Linked DNA regions of Homo sapiens: region 1 is linked to region 2. The links come from fine-mapping of genetic effects on gene expression. A gene starts in region 2. The other region holds a variant in brackets. All regions are shown on one strand. Distances are from middle to middle.

Region 1 (8,510 bases), 70 kb before region 2:
TGGGTTTTCCTTTGATTCTGTGAACAGGTCAGTAGCTCTCGAGCATTCTATCTGTGACCCATTTCACAGTGCAATCCATAACACACACACACACACACACACACACGTAAGTGTGTGCATCATCACTATATGGACATAATTTCCATGAAACACTACTTATACCCTTATTATGTATGATATACTCTGATATTTTTTACTTTATCTCATTTCATTTTCTTTCTTTCTGTCTGTCTTTTTTTTTTTTTTTGAGATGGTCTGTCTCCCAGGCTGGAGTGCAGTGGCACAATCTCGATCACAGCTCACTGCAGGCTCAACCTCCTGGGCTCAAGTGATCCTCCCACCTCAGCACCCCCCATCCCCCATCCCCTCAACACACACACCAGTCTCTAGGACCATAGGCGCACCACCACACCCGGCTAATTTTTGCATTTTTTTGTGGAGACAAGGTTTCACCATGTTACCCAAACTGGTCTGACTCCTAGGCTCAGGCAATCCTCCAGCCTCAGCCTCCTAAAATGCTGGGATTACAGGCATGAGCCACCATGTCCAACCTCATTTCCCTTTATTATTTCTTGAGACCCACTAAGCTGATTTCATGACACTGTAAATTGTGACTTGCAGTATAAGAACAACCAAGCTGGATAAATGGCTTCCTTGTTTTTGCTTACACTGCTCCAAGATGATGTGTCACTTGCAACCTGCTAACCAAAATGCCAACTAACCTTGCCTCTTGCACAACCTGTACCTCCTGTTCCAGCCCCTGCCCACCTCCACCCCACCCCTGGCCAGGCTACCACAAGGAGAGCAGTTTGCAAACTCACTGATCATTCAGCCACAGAGCAGAGATGTGGACTTCTGTGATGTGTTTTAGTGCAAAGAACTGGAGGTAGACACATTTGGGTTCTACGCCTAACCCTAGTCATGTCAGACACTGTGATCTTGGATGAGGTCCTTGGACCCATGAACATCAGTCTTGGCAGCTATATATTGGGCTTGTGCTCCCTGCTTCATAGAAGGAGCATATGGATAAAATGCGATGATGAGTGAAATATTCCGAGCACGTGCTCCACATGTAACATTCTGCACATGGAAGTTCCCATCCCTCCAACCCAGGATGCCAGACATCTTCATTTTTAATCCAGGGTAGAAAGAAAGAGACATCCCCTCTCTCGCTCTCTCAGATCTCTCATGAAAGATGAATCCTTGGGGCTGGGCGCGGTGACTCATGCCTGTAATCCCAGCACTTTCGGAGGCCGAGGCGGGTGGATCACCTGAGGTCAGAAGTTCAAGACCAGCCTGGTCAACATGGTGAAACCCCGTCTCTACTAAATATACAAAAAAAATAGCCGGGGGTGGTGGTGGGCGCCTGTAATCCCAGCTACTCAGGAGGCTGAGGCAGGAGAATCGCTTGAACCAGGGAGGCGGATGTTGCACTGAGCCGATATCGTGCCATTGCACTCCAGCCTGGGCAACAAGAGTGAAACGTTGTCTCAAAAAAAAAAAAAAAAAAAAAAAGATGAGTCCTGTGTATACAAAAATGGTAATGATGGCCAGAGCACCTGGTGCGTGCATCAACCTTTACCATTGTCAAGATAACTCATTCCGCTGGGCATGATAGCTAACACCTATAATCCCAGAACTTTGGGAGGCCAAGGCGGGTGAATCACCTGAGGTCAGGAGTTCAAGACCAGCCTGGCCAACATGGCAAAACCCCATCTCTACTGAAAATACAAAAATTAGCCAGGCGTATTAGCACATGCCTGTAATCCCAGCTACTTGGAGACTGAGACAGGAGAATTGCTTGAACCTAGGAGGCAGAGGTTGCAGTGAGCCGAGATCGCACCACTGCACTCCAGCCTGGGCGACAGAGCGAGACTGTCTCAAAAAAACAAAACAAAACAAAAAACAAACGAACAAAAACCTTCCTCACAAGAACCCCGGGAAGGAGATGGGATGGAAGTGGGTGAGGGTTAGTTGCTGTACGCCAAGCAACAAGGGTGTGGCCATGCGAGGCCTGGCCCTTTTGGTGGTCCTGGGTTCAAGTTCAGTGCTCCACTCTCCCCTTGTAATGGCTGCTTCCCTGCTTCGCTCTGGCCTGGGCTCCCAGGATCCTGAAACTGCTTCCAGGCAAAGCAATGGAGGCCACGATAGAACTTTTGCTACATTTGGCAAATTGCAGTCTCAGGGCAGCATTTGCTCAAACTCTAGGCAACCTCCGCCTCCTAGGTTCAAACTCTCCCTAAATGCTGTAGCCAGAGAGAAGAAAAGAAATTTCTAGAATCCAAGAATTTCAGGGTCAAAGTGTGCTTCAAGGCCTTTCCCCCATCCCAGGACGGATGGTCCCTGCCTGTGCCAGGGGCCACTGGGCCGAGGCGTGATGAGCTCTCTGGGAGGCAGACAGCCTGAGCCCAGAGTGGGTTGGTTGTGGCTGCAACACAGAAAACCTGCAGCTCCTCAGAGAGGTGCCAAGGCAAACCAGAACCCAGGTGTCCAGGAGCCAGCAATGCCTGCTGGAAGGGTCACAAAGGACCCTCTTTGTGGGCCAGTGGAACCCCAGAGGGCCAGCACAAGCCCCTGCCCCCAGGTGCCATCTCCGAGGCATGCAAATTTCTTTCTTTTTTTTTTTTTTTTTTTTTGAGACAGGGTCTTGCTCTGTCACCCAGACTGGAGTGCAGTGGTGCAATCTCAGCTCACTGCAGCCTCAATGAGAGGCAAACTTTTCAGAAAACATAAAAAGCCCTGATAGAAAATTTGAACTTAAATTGCCTGAACATTCACCCCCAAATGAGAGACTTTACCCAAAGATGTGTGTGTGTGTGTGTGTGTGTGTGTGTTTGTTTGTTTGTTTTTTTGAGACAGAGTCTCGCTCTGTCGCCCAGGCTGGAGTGCAGTGGCACAATCTCGGCTCACTGCAACCTCCACCTCCCAGGTTCAAGCGATTCTCCTGCCTCAGCCTCCCGAGTAGCTGGGATTACAGGTGCCCGCCACCACACATAGCTAATTTTTGTATTTTTAGTAGAGACAGGGTTTCACCATGTTGGTCAGGCTGGCCTCAAACTCCTGACCTCAAGCGATCCACCTGCCTCAGCCTCCCAAAGTGCTGGCATTACAGGCGTGAGCCACCGCGCCCGGTCCGAGAGTGTGTTTTAAATCACAAGAGACTAAGGGGCCTTCAGGCAAGTTTGTTTCTTTTCAGCAGGTCTTGGGTCCCTTGAGGGAAGGGAAGTGGACTCTAGGAAATTAAGCGACTCCCTACTTTTGTTCATCTGAGCTATAGGGTGGATGTTTTCTGTCCCCTTACATAAGCAGCACTTCCTGCATTTGGCTACAGAACATTTTTCTCACATGGCATCTCTTGGGGCGATTGTTTCACAAGAGCCCTGGTGGTAAACACTGCCCCCATCCAATGGCCGGTCTGGCCCCTGAGACTCCCAGGACCGAGCAGTGACCACAACATCTGGGTCCGTTGCCAGGGAAAACAACAGGCAGGCCTGGGATGGCTCAGCGGCCCCAGCCAGG[C/T]AGCCAAGTCCTCCTCAAGGTCAGGCTGTGTTTAGCGTGTTCCCCAAGTGTGGGAGGCCAGGAGCAGGGGTGGGTTGTGGAATCCGGGATGCCACGGTTGGAAAGGCCCCTACAAGACCCAACTCAGCAGCCCTTAACCCCTCATTCCTGCTCGTAGGGCCCAGGGACAGGAGGTGGCCTCTATCACAGCAAAGCCAGGACTGGCTAGGTGGGCCGCACCTTCTGCAAAGCAACAGCCTCCAATGTGGTCTCAGCTAGGGGTGGTGACTGGGGACTTCTGGGCATATAAATACAAACAAACCACATGGCTTCTGATCACAATTTGACACAAATGCTAGAGAGACACAGATCTCAGCCCGTAACCTCACTGTGGGCTCATTCTTGTAGACACAGAGCCTAGGACTGGTTCTTAGCTGTGTAATCACAAACAACCCACAACTTCTAGAAGCCTGGGTTTCCTCTTCCTTAAAGTGGGAGACAGAGTATCACAATCCTATATCTCCAATCCTTGAGGCCAGATGCATGTCAGAGTTCCTGATTTGGGGGATTTTTAGAAAGGTAATGGGGTGCAGGTATCGTGTACTATGTAACCCACGCACCCGCAGCAGCCCTCCTCAGTCAAACATATTAATATTTCTGCAGTGACTGTAAATATTCAAATTAAGCAGGAGACATAAAAACCACAGGTGAATTCATGCCAGATCAGGTCAGGTTTTGCCACTAAATGAATAAATTATCATTTTTTTTTAAGTTTTCATTCTGAGGCCAGGTGCGGTGGCTCACGCCTGTAATCCCAGCACTTTGGGAGGCCTAGATGGATGGATCATTTGAGGTCAGCAGTTTGAGACCAGCCTGGCCAACATGGCAAAACCCCATCTCTACTAAAAATACAAAAATCAGCCGGGCGTGGTGGCAGGTGCCTGTAATCTCAGCTACTAGGGAGGCTGAGACAGGGGAATAGCTTGAACGTAGGAGGCGGAGGTTGCAGTGAGCCGAGATCGTGCCATTGCACTCCAGCCTGGGCAACAGAGCGAGACTTCATCTCAAAAAACAATAATAATAATAATAATAAAATAAAGTTTCCATTTTCAGAGGATTCTGCATTCAGAGTTATTAGCCCTTTAATGCTGTGCACCTCATAGGGTTGTTACCCACATCAGCGTCACGTAAGATGCTGTGGAGGAAAGCAGTTTCAGAACAATCAGTGATGACAGCTACTGTGAATCCACTATTCAACAGGCGCCCCATCGCTTGCTCATGGGCTCCTCACCATAGCTCTAAGCCACAGGAGCTATTTTCATACCCCATATAGGTCCATCCTATAACACAGCCAGGACAGAGACGAGAGACTCAGGCCTCCTGACTTGGATTCTGCTCTTTCACCTCCTTGTTCATCCAATTAGAGAAACTGGCAAAAAGGAAACTGAAAGTGACAGCTGGAGCCCATGATTTCCTGGAAGAGCCCTAGAGCTTTGCTTTTTCTCTCCTGCAGCACTTAACCGAAACCAGTTTTGCAATCAATTCCTGTTCAAAGGCCACCCTACTCTTCCTATCCGTCTTTCTCCAGCCCAGACACTCACAGCCCCCTGCCAGACCAGGGGACCTCGGAGAGGCAAGGACAGAGGTTCAGGATCTTCCTCTCCCTCGGGACCCAAGGCCACAAAGGAGAGCTCCGTGGAGAGAAGGTGAGACGGCGGGCAGAAGTCGGGGGAGGAGGGGGCTGCCGCTCTGGTCCCTGAAGGACAGAGCCCCCAAGGGGTTGGCTTTAGGCACCTGACTCAGGGAAAAGAGCTGCTGTGAAAGCAGCGGGGTTCAAATGCCAGCCAGAGCTTGAGGAGAGTCTGAGGATTAACTTCTCCTGTGTTAATCCTGGTAGGTTTCCCTCCCTTACAGCCATTTCAGGGTTAAATTGAAACATGCTAAAGCATGCGATGTGACTAGCCAAGTTGCATTTGTCCCTCCACTGCTGGGGATCCGAGGGCTTAGGCAGAGGGGACCTGGCCCTTAGAAAGCAGATGATTACATCAGCCACAGGCGTTTCCCTAGAAATTCAGTAGAGGAGTGGTTTAGGGGTGTCATCTCACAAGAAAAAAGGTGCTGGGTGAGTTGTCTAGAAACTGCAAAGCCAACCTACAGAGTTTTCTAGATTGTAGATTTATGTGAAGTTGTTTGGGGAAGAGGGTGAGGGAGTTTGTGATAAATATTAGGGCGACTAGGCCAGGCGCAGTGGCTCATGCCTGTAATCCCAGCATTTTGGGAGGCTAAGGCAAGCGGATTGCTTGAGCCCAAGAGTTTGAGACCAGCATGGGCAACATAGTGAGACCCCGTCTCTACAAAAAATCAAAAAATAGCTGGGCGTGATGGTGCACACCTGTAGTCCCAGCTACTTGGGAGGGTGCTGAGGTGGAAGGATCACTTGAACCCAGGAAGTCAAGAATGCAGTGAGCAGTGATCGCACCACTGCACTCCAGCCTGGGCAACAGAGTGAGACCCGGTCTCAAAAAAAAAAAAAAAAATCTAGGGAGGTTATCTTGAAGCTGTGTTTTCAAAGTAAGCAGATTTTTCTTACTTAGATTGTGTATCTGCAGAAGTTGGTTTTGTGGGGGAAGGCAGGTAAGGAAAGACTGTCATAAATATCCTGTAAGCTTTCAAATGAAAGTAAGTTCTCAAATCCTCTTCCAATAAACCTCTCACAAGCAAATCCTCTCGCAACCACCAAGAGCAGGTCAGAGGGGATGGAATGGGACCTGCTTAGATGAGTTTCCTGCTGTTACCTTTGCCCTGCATCCCATAGGACTAATGTAAAAAAATGAGAGAGGTATTGGCGGACGCTGGTAAAAAATGGGGTTCCAGACCAGAGTCTCTTACCCCCAGCAACCTTGTCATGTTCAACCAGGTGATCCCTGGTTGTGGGGGCTGTCCTCTGCATCGTAGGGTGCTTGGCAGCATCCCTGGCCTCTGCCCTCTACATACCAACAGCAGTACCCTCTCCAGCTGAGACCATCAAAAATGTTTCCAGATATTAGCAGTGTCCCTGAGGAGCAAACACGCCCTGTTTGGGACCAACTACTCCAGACTCTGCGTGGCTGGAATTGCACAGGCTTTCCTGCTTACTGTGTGACACTGGCCTCCCTATGTCTCAGTTTGCACCTCTGTAAAATGGGCATCATCTTAGCACCGATCTCACTGGGTCACTGTGTAAAGCAGGTAGATGTATGTCTGGTGAAAGTAAACTCTTAAAGGTGCCAAGCCCCCTAAACCAAACCTAGCTTCACATACCAAAGAGGGGAGAAGGTTTTTATCTTTGAAGCATTCATTCTTTTTCATAGACTACCCCAAAGAAATAACCAAACATGTAGACAGACGTCTATATAAGGATTTTAACCAAAAATTATAAATACAAAATTTTAAAATAACTGAAAACAACCCAAAGGTTCAACAGTGAGAGAGTTATTGAATGTGTAATGATACATTCGTAAAATGAAATGCGACATGGCTTCTATGTATCGCCTGGGGAACTACTAAGATACAATGTTAGGTGACAAGAATTCACACAAACTACATGAACAGCATGCATTTCCATATGGTGAGCGTAAGGTGGATTTTATAATTTATTTCTAAATTTTCAACCTTAAACTTGTATTCATGGCTATAAGTGAATGAATGAATGAATGGCTATAAATGAATGGCTATAAAAATTTGTGTCCTGGGCTGGGCATGGTGGCTCATGCCTGTAATCCCAGCACTTTGGGAGCCCGAGGTGGGTGGATCACCTGAGGTCAGGAGTTCAAGACCAGCCTGGCCAACCTTGTGAAACCCCATCTCTACTAAAAATACAAAAATTAGCCGGGTGTGTTAGTACGTGCCTGTAATCCCAGCTACTTGGTAGGCTGAAGCAGGAGAATCGCTTGAATCTGGGAGGTGGAGGTTGCAGTGAGCCAAGATCATGCCATTGTACTCCAGCCCGGGCAACAAGAGCAAAATTCAGTCTCAAAAAAAAAAAAAAATTTTTTTAAAAATAAAGAATTTGTGTCCCTTCAGAGTGTGTGAGGGAGGATGTTTTTTTCTAACTTTTTAGAAGTGGAAGGGAAGAGGATGAGAGAAGGGAGGATGAGCTGAGGGAGAAGCTATATCTAGGAAACAGCATTTCTGCCGTAAGCGCTGGACCAAGTACCAAATGTAGAGAAGAGATGCAAAGGAATGTATTGGCTTCCCTAGGGCTGCTGTCAGAAAGCACCACAAACCAGGTGGCTTCAAACAACAGACATTTAGTGTCTCACAGTTCTGGAGGCTGGAAGTCAAAAATCCCAGTGCCAGTAGGGCGCACTTCTGCTGCAGGCTCCAGGGAGACCATCTGTGCCTTTTGCAGCCTCGGTGGCTTCTGACAGCACGACTCTAATTTCTGCCTCTGTCTGCGTGCAGCCTTCTTTGCTGTGTCTCTCTCTGTCACCTCCTCTTCTTATAATGACATCAGTGATGGATTTCAGGGCCACCCTGAATCCAGGATAATTTCACCCGGAGAAATGTATACATGTGCCATGTTGGTGTGCTGCACCCATTAACTCATCATTTAACATTAGGTATAACTCCTAATGCTATCCCTCCCCACTCCCCCCACCCCACAACAGGCCCCGGTGTGTGACGTTCCCCTTCCTGTGTCCATGTGTTCTCATTGTTCAATTCCCACCTAGGAGTGAGAACATGCGGTGTTTGGTTTTTTGTCCTTGCGATAGTTTGCTGAGAATGATGGTTTCCAGCTTCATCCATGTCCCTACAAAGGACACGAACTCATCCTTTTTTATGGCTGCATAGTATTCCATGGTGTATATGTGCCACATTTTCTTAATCCAGTCTAGCATTGTTGGACATTTGGCTTGGTTCCAAGTCTTTGCTATTGTGAATAGTGCCGCAATAAACATATGTGTGCATGTGTTTTTATAGAAGCATGTTTTATAATCCTTTGAGTATATACCCAGTAATGGGATGGCTGG
Region 2 (8,510 bases):
TCGGTTTTCTTCTTTAGGAGGGGAAGCTGCCTCTCTTCCGGCCTAGGATCCATTGTCATCTGCAGAGAGAGAAGTGCCAAGGGATCCTCAGAGATACCATGACTGCAGCACCAACCAAAATCCACCCAGGTAATCCTCTCCTGTTCAGTAAATTCTCTTGACCCCAGCTCACTGTCCCCACCTACAACGGGAGATGCTAGAGATTATGAAGTGACTTGAGGCACTGGATGTGGCTGATCCTGGGTCCGAAAGTGAAGGTGAGGAACTAAAGTCCCTTTCTTGCCCTATCTCCCATGAGATTCTGCTCACACTCCTCCTACAATTAGAGACCTCTCATCCTGGGTTCCTTAGCTGTGGTGACTGTATTTCATGAACCTCAGATCCAGATACATACTCAAGTCAGAATACAACATCTGTGTTGGCCGGGCGCGGTGGCTCAAGCCTGTAATCCCAGCACTTTGGGAGGTCAAGGCAGGTGGATCACTTGAGGTCAGGAGTTTAAGACCAGCTTGGCCAACATGGTGAAACCCCGTCTCTACTAAAAACACAAAAATTAGCCAGGCGTGGTGGTGCGCACCTGTAATCCCAGCTACTTGGAAGGCTAAGGCAGGAGAATCGCTTGAACCTGGGCGGCGGAGGTTGCAGTGAGCTGAGACCATGCCACTGCATTCCAGCCTGGATGACAGAGCAAGATTCTGTCTCAAAAAAATAAAAATAAATAAAAATCTGCGTTATCCCTCTGGGCCCTGCAACTCTTAATGGGTCCAGTTTTGTGGTCAGTCCAGGCACTGTTATCTGGTTGTGTGGTTGAGAATTCCAGAAGTGCCTAGATTTGTTTTTGGCCCAGCCATGCCTTCTCACTATGTGGCCCTCGAGGGAGATATTAGCATGAGGGACAATGGCAAACAGTAGTAGCAGAAAAGGACAATGCCTCGTTTTACCCTTCTGGCTTGGGGCTGACTCTCCAGAGCAGAGCTCTCTGGCAGAATGGACTGAACTACCTGGCTTAGGTCTACGTGAGCCTCTCCCTGCCTCTAAAACCAGACTCCAAGTTCAGGATCGCTGTGTCCTCCAGCAATGAATGCAGGGTGTCCGACTGAGAAGAGTTGAGAAAGCAAGATAAATGAACTGGGGCCAGTGGATCCCTTCTTCCGTGTTGAGAGAGGAGGCAGGAGAGAGGAGCAAGCTCCTTGCATCTGTGTGTGATCCCTGAGCACAGTGGCCACAGCCTCCACTGAAGGTGGCCTCCTGGGTGTCTTGTAATGGAAACCACTCAGAAGAGTCTAACGCCCTGTTTGGGAGACGTGAGTCAAAGCAGGGGGAGAAGGGTAGTTCTTTCTCGCTCTCAGTGTGATATTCTGAGCTTTCTCATGGAAGATGCATTTTTAAATTATCAGAAATTGATCGATTATGAAATATGATGATTCGTGAAACATCTGTGTACATAATCAAACACAAGATGATGTTGTTTGACCTCTCATCCTATGCATAAAGCACAAAAGTTGCATAGGAGATGAATTTAACTGGAAGGGAACTATGAGCCCATTTCATGGACAGACCCAGAACCTGTCCAGTGGTTCTCCCACTCCCGCTATATGATCATCCTCTGCCTTTGCTGGGTCTCAGCCCTGCTCACTCCCTTCTTGCCTCCTCCCCAAAATAAAGTCTAATAGAGTCATCTCCCAAGATCTATTCTAGCCCAGGACAGCAGGGAGAGCTGAGCAAGATTTTAAACATAAAAAACTTAGTGTCAGCTGGGCGTAGTGGCTCAGGACTTTAATCCCAGCACTTTGAGAGGCTGAGGTGGCCAGATGGATCACCTGAGGCCCAGGAGGTTGACAGCCTGGTCAACATGGTGAAACCCCGTCTCTACTAAGAATGCAAAAATTAGCTGGGCGTGGTGGTGCACACCTATAATCCCAGCTACTCGGGAGACTGAGGCAGGAGAATCGCTTGAACAAGGGAGGCAGAGGTTGCAAAGCCGAGATCGTGCCACTGCACTCCAGCCTGAGCCACAGAGCAAGACTGTGTATCAAAAATTAAATAAATATATACATACATACATAAAAAAACAAAACTTAGTGTCATGAATGATGAGGTCTTATTCTAAGTGTTGTTCTGTATCTGTCATTTACTGGGTATACACAGAGTAGGCAGGAAAGCGCAGATAACACACATCTCTGCCTTCAAGGTGAAGCTCCGGGCTGCCACAATAAACCACTCACTGCATCAGCTGAAACCTCTGCACTGTACCTATCTATGTAGAGCATAGGAAGAGAGCAAAGAAATAAAAAGCAGAATGCCTAAAATAATGGGACAAATCAAAGTTGAATAATTATAACAAAAAATAATTAATATGAATATGAATAACATTAAGAAAAGTATCAAATTGGGTCAAAATCAGATCTGAGTAATTTTCTACATCCAAGAGATAACCTGAAATAAATAGGACACAAAAGGCCAAAATAACAAGTTAGAAAAACTTACATAGAACCAACAAAAAAAGAAAACAATATTAACATTTAACAGTATTAATTTGTCAGATTTTGTCTTACCATGTACTTGGCAGCATTCCCTGCACCAAATGCATTACTGTACAAGTGGGAGATTTTATGATAAAATAATGAATAATAAATCTCATTACTAAAATCTTTTTATTCTATTGGCTTTTTGTTGTTGTTGAGACAGAGTCTCGCTCTGTCACCCAGGCTGAAGTGCAGTGGTGCAATCTCAGCTCACTGCAACCTCCGCCTCCCGGGTTCAAGAGATTCTCCTGCCTCAGCCTCCTGAGTAGCTGGGATTACAGGTGCCCACCACCACGCCTGGCTAATTTTTGTATTTTTAGTAGAGACTTGTTGGCCAGGCTGGTCTCGAACTCCTGATCTCAGGTGATCCACCTGCCTCAGCTTCCCAAAGTGCTGGGATTACAGGCGTGAGCCACCGTGCCTGGCTTCTATTGGCTTTTATTATAAAACTAACAAGTTACTTTGGTAACAAAGCTCAATAATATAGATGAGTGAAAAGTGCAAAAGTATTTTGTCACCCTAGCCCTAAATCTCCCTCCCTGAGCTAAGCCTGTTCACATTTGGTGTATCTCCTTCGAGAATATTCCCCTACTCCTACATCACATATATAGTACTTAAAAAAAATAAGAAAAGAATATAAAGAACATATTCTTCAACCTCTTTTCTTTTACTTAATATATCCTGGACCTCTTTCTAGGTCAGTTGTACATAGATTTGCCTCGTTCCTTTTCACATCCATAAACCTTTATTTTGTATTGCTCTATTTTCATGTAAACAGTCCCCGGCATGGATTTTTCAAATTGTTTCCATTTCTTTATACAACTTCAAATAACTGGATGAACATCCATACACGTTTGTCTGTTGTGTTGTGTTGTGCCGTTGTGTTGTGTCCGTGGTGGGTGTATTTCTAGAGGTGGGATGCTGAGTGTCAGGCACATGTACTTCTCATGTTAAGAGACATCCCAAGAAGGCCAGGTGCAGTGGCTCACACCTGTAATCCTAGCACTTTGGGAGGCCAAGGAGGGTGGATTGTTTGAGCTCAGGAGTTAGAGATTAGCCTGGGCAACATGGTGAATCTCCATCTCTACAAAAAAAAAAAAAATATATATATATATATATATTAGCTGGGTGTGGTGGTGCACACCTGTAGTCCCCGCCACTTGGGGGGCTAAGACAGGAGGATCACTTGAGCCCGGGAGGTTACTGCAGTGAGCCGAGATTGTGTCACTGCACTCCAGCCCAGGTGCCAAAATGAGACCATCTCCAAATGAAAGAAAAAAAAAAAAGAAAGATACCCTAAATCATCCTTCCAAAAGCCATAGCAGCTGAGCGCAGTGGCTCACGCCTGTAATCCCAGCATTTTGAGAGGCCAAGGCGGGCGGATCACCTGAGGTCAGGAGTTTGAGACCAGCCTGGCCATCATGGTGAAACCCTGTCTCTACTAAAAATACAAAAATTAGCCAGGCATGGTGGCAGGCACCTGTAATCCCAGCTACTCAGAAGGCTGAGGCAGAAGAGTCAGTTGAACCTGGGAAGTGGAGGTTGCAGTGACTGAGACTGCACCACTGCACTCCAGCCTGGGCAGCAGAGAGAAGCTCCATCGCAAAAAAAAAAAAAAAGAAAGAAAAGAAAAGAAAAAAAAATAGGTGAGGACTGGGAGAGACAGGTTTCAGGCATGGAGAAGGGAGTCATATTTATTAATCATATTATAAGCTTAAATTTTAAAAAATCTAAAGCATGCCATGTGGCAAACAAGGAAATTTGCAAGTTCCCGGTTCCAAGGTGTTACCTGGTAAGTTCTTTTAAGCTTTCAGAAAACAAGCAATTCTCACGTTGTACAAATTGTCCCAGAAATAGAAAAAATACGTTACACTATTTTTTATACCCACCATATGCTATTGCTGGGTGGAGATATAGCAGATCCTTGGTTTTAATGAGGGAGATATCATGAGACCCTCTCAATTGCTCAGGTTTGAAAATACTACATCAAATAACTTCCTTTGTAAAGTTTAACTAAAAATGTAAAGTTTAACTAAAAACATAAGCAGCTCTTTAAGCCCCTGCTTGAAGCAGTGTGGCAGCGGGGAAGGGGTCAATCACTGGTTCCATTTCTGGTTAAAGTAGAGGCAGCAGGCAGGACAAGGTGGCGACATTATCAAAGAACTCATCTGGATATCAAAACTGTTATGACCCCAAAGCACGGTTGGGCGCAGTGGCTCATGCCTGTAATCCCAACACTTTGGGAGGCCAACATGGGCAGATCACTTGAGGCCAGGAGTTCAAGACCAGCCTGGCCAACATGGTGAAACCCTGTCTCTATTAAAAATACAAAAAATTAGCCAGGCTGGTAGTGCACACCTGTAGTCCCGTTACTCGGGAGGGTGAGGCAGGAGAATTGCTTGAACTGGGAGATCGCGCCATTGCACTGCAGCCTGGACAACAGACAGAGACCCCGTCTCAAAAAAAAAAAAAAAAAAAAAAAAGACGCCAAAGTGCCATGATAAGGGAGTGTTTCTATAAACATGACAATACATCTTCTCTTAAGGAAATAGCATAGAGTCATCAAAAATAATAGTTATAACAACTGTATAGCAAGATGGAAAATACTTGTATAACATTACATTTTAAAAACAGGGCACGTGGCCAGGCACAGCGGCTCATGCCTGTAATCCCAGCACTTTGGGAGGCCAAGGCAGATGTATCACCTGAGGTTGGGAGTTTGAGACCAGCCTGGCCAACATGGTGAAACCCCCATCTCTACTACAAATAGAAAACTTATCCAGGCATGGTGGTGCGCACCTATAATTGCAACAACTCGGGAGGCTGAGACAGGAGAATCACTTGAACCCAGGAGGCGCAGGTTGCAGTGAGCCGAGATCGCACCACTGCATTCCAGCCTGGGTGACAGTGAGACCGTCTCAAAAATAATAATAATAATAAATAATAATAATAAATAAAAACAGGACACACCATTATAAGTATAAAAGCCATGCGAAAAATAATACGGATTTGAAAAATAACGGGAAGTAGAGAATGAAATCAATAGTTATGTTGCAGGAGAACTAGGGGTGATTTTTGTCAAATTATATTTTTTGTCAAATTTGACTATCTTTTTGTCAAATTATATTGAAAATACATTTAAAGTGATTTTTGAGCAACAAAAGAAGCTGCAATGTGAGAGAGAGTGTCTGAACAAGGTGGACTCTGCTGTGTTGCCTGCCTGGGTAAAACCAACCACCATCCCGCCCACGAGCCTTGTCATCAGGCAGGTGTCATTCAGCAGGGACTGGACTGTGCCTCTCTCAGGGCTATAGATGATAGGCACTGGACAGAATGAGCGTTCACTTGCTCCCAAGTTAAAAATGTTATCAATTAACATGGCCCCGATTGTCTTGGTGCCTATCATTGTGTTGTTGGATGATTCTCAGAAGACTTTTGTGACTTAACGAAATGGGAAAAGTTCCCTTATCCCCCTTGCACAGTATAAAACGGGGTGTGGCTCACTTCTTCGGTGCCCTGCGGCTCAAACCCCTAGGGGGAGCATGCGGACCGGCAGGTCTTGGGGAGCGTGGGCTCCGACCCCACAGCAGCCCCATCTAGGGTTGAGTGTTTGCAGCTCCCGAGCCCCAGTGAGCTTATCGGAAGGACAAAGCAGAGGGTCTAATTTCTGTACTCCAGGGTTCTAACCCTAGTATGCCAGAAAAATTGGATCACACGTGGGCTTGGAGAGTGAGTGCAAGGTTTTATCGAGTGTAGTTCTCAGCAGATGGATGGGGAGCCAGAAAGGGGATGGAGTGGGAAGGTGGTCTTCCCCTGGATTTGGGCCACTCAGCGGTTCTCCTCCAACTGCCTTTGGCTAAATTCCATGTCATTCAGCCGTGGATGACCTGTCAGCATCCGCCGGTGTATTCTTCTTCCTGTGTGTTCCTCTCGATGTCCAGCTACTTGTGTGTGTCTGCCTGTTAGGTGGGGATATGGCGGGCCAGAGTGGTCTTAGAAAATGCAGCATTTGGGAGCGAAAGCAGAAATGCTTGTCCTCACTTAGATCCATGGGCCCAGGCCCGAGGGTGGAACCCTCACCGGGGACCATGCCTTTATGTAAGCAGCACTTCCCTGCCTGCTCCCATATCATTAACGTATAACGTCAACATTTCAAAAGTGCTTTACCAATCTACTTTGCCACTAGAAGCCTAAGCGATTTCCAGTTTTATTGCATCCTAGTCAACCTTGGGCATTCCCATGGTTTGTTTGTTTAAAATCATTAGACAAAAATCATGTGACATTTCTGAGACATTAAGATTTTTGTTGTATTCTTTTTTTTTTCTAATTCTCCAATATTGTAATTAGACAGCCAACTTTCCCGGAGCACTGTTATGTCTTTTCGGGCTGAGATGACTCAAGAAGAAATGTCCCTGATCCTTGTCCATCTCCAGGCTTGGGAGAAGGTTGTAAAGAAATGTGGCTTCGAAAGGTAATCTACGGAGGTGAGGTCTGGGGGAAGTCCCCAGAACCTGAGTTCCGTGAGGGCAGAGAACAGGCTGTTATGCTTATGGCCACAATCCCAGCATCCAAAACAGTGTCTGTCACAGACCCAGCACTCAATGAGTATTTGGGTTTTGTTTTGTTTTGAGACAGAGTCTCTTCTCTGTTGCCCAGGTTGGAGTGCAGTGGCACGATCTCGGCTCACTGCAACCTCTGCCTCCCAGGTTCAAGTGATTCTCCTGCCTCAGCCTCACGAGTAGCTGGGATTACAGGCGCCCGCCACCACGCCCGGCTAATTTTTATATTTTTTGTAGAGATGGAGTTTCCCCATGTTGGCCAGGCTGGTCTTGAACTCCTGATCTCAAATGCTCCACCCGCCTCGGCCTCCCAATGTGCTGGGATTAGAGGTGTGAGCCACCGTGCCCAGCTGTCAATAAGTATTTGAATGAAGGAATAAAATCTGATTGTTAATATCCAGATCTGTAGCCACCTTCATAGGATGAAACATACAAATGGGTTCCAACCAAGTTGGCTGAAGTGTTGCTCATGTTGTCTCATGTGCAATTGGAGATATGCAAAAAAGATAAAATGTACACATCCGCATAAAAAATATCTTAGTAAAAAAAATGTAAAACCTTTGGTAAGGGCAGGCACGGTGGCTCACGCTTGAAATCCTAGCACTTTGGGAGGCCAAGGTGGGCGGATCGCTTGAGGTCAGGAGTTCAAGGACAGATTGGCCAACATGGTGAAACGTCATTTCCACTAAAAATACAGAAATTAGCTAGGTGTGGTGGAGCATGCCTGTAATCCCAGCTACATGGGAGGCTGAGGCAGGAGAATTGCTTGAACCCGGGAGGCGGAGGTTGCAGTGAGCCAAGATTGCACCACTACTGCACTCTAGCCTGGGCGACAGAGCAGGGCTTCATTTAAAAAAAAAAAATCCTTTGGTAATGGTAAGTACATTGGTATACTGATAGATGCCCAGACACATGGCTTAGAGGGCAATGGAATCCTAGAAGCAGAATTTGCTGGTTTTCTCCCAATCCAGGAATATTCCTTCCTGGGTCTGCCTTCACCCTTTCCCAACCCATGATAATGTCTGAGTCTTGCCTTGAGATCCAAGCTCCTGGGACTTCCCTTTCCGTTGCCTTGGCCTGGGCATTCAGACTCTCCCACAGAGCTCAGCTGCAGCAATAGACTCACAACAAACTCTGCTGCCTAACAGAGGTTGCACTTAACTCTTGCCAAAGTGTCCATAAGGTTCTCTAAAGTGGGTTGCAATGCTCCCGCAATTTATAGCAACCAAATGCCTAAAGATAAAATCTTCATGCGTCATGCAAATGGGTTGCCTGCGCTTTCAGACACAGGTACAGTTATTGACTTCTCTGTGTCCTTGGCCCAGCCTCCCTCTACTGTTCTCTCTCCCACCTCCACTGTCAAGATTTCCCCCCAGTGCTCCCGTTAAGTCTGAGAAAGCTCCCCAAAAAAGGCATTGACTTTTCA

Alleles and levels. Positions count from the first base shown, and alleles are read on the strand shown. Sizes are in standard deviations (SD) of each study's normalised expression.
For the expression in subcutaneous fat of the gene that starts at base 4,263 in region 2, C is the high allele of the variant in region 1 and T is the other (moderate effect, 0.51 SD a copy in GTEx).

The links. PIP is the estimated chance that this variant, and not a neighbour inherited with it, causes the effect.
Region 1: its variant is fine-mapped to the expression of APOL5 in subcutaneous fat (GTEx, PIP above 0.99). The same link has a PIP of 0.9 or more in breast, left ventricle, thyroid, tibial nerve and visceral fat.

What each region holds. Positions count from the first base shown.
Region 1 is chr22:35,643,420-35,651,929 of GRCh38, forward strand. APOL6 (apolipoprotein L6) reads left to right here and starts at 5,027. Exons shown (of 3, transcript NM_030641.4): 1 at 5,027-5,204. RefSeq lists an enhancer at 4,732-5,031. The variant C/T (reference allele first, on the strand shown) is at 3,520.
Region 2 is chr22:35,713,610-35,722,119 of GRCh38, forward strand. It overlaps APOL5 (apolipoprotein L5), which reads left to right and starts at 4,263. Exons shown (of 5, transcript NM_030642.1): 1 at 4,263-4,317; 2 at 6,959-7,045. The coding sequence starts at 4,263.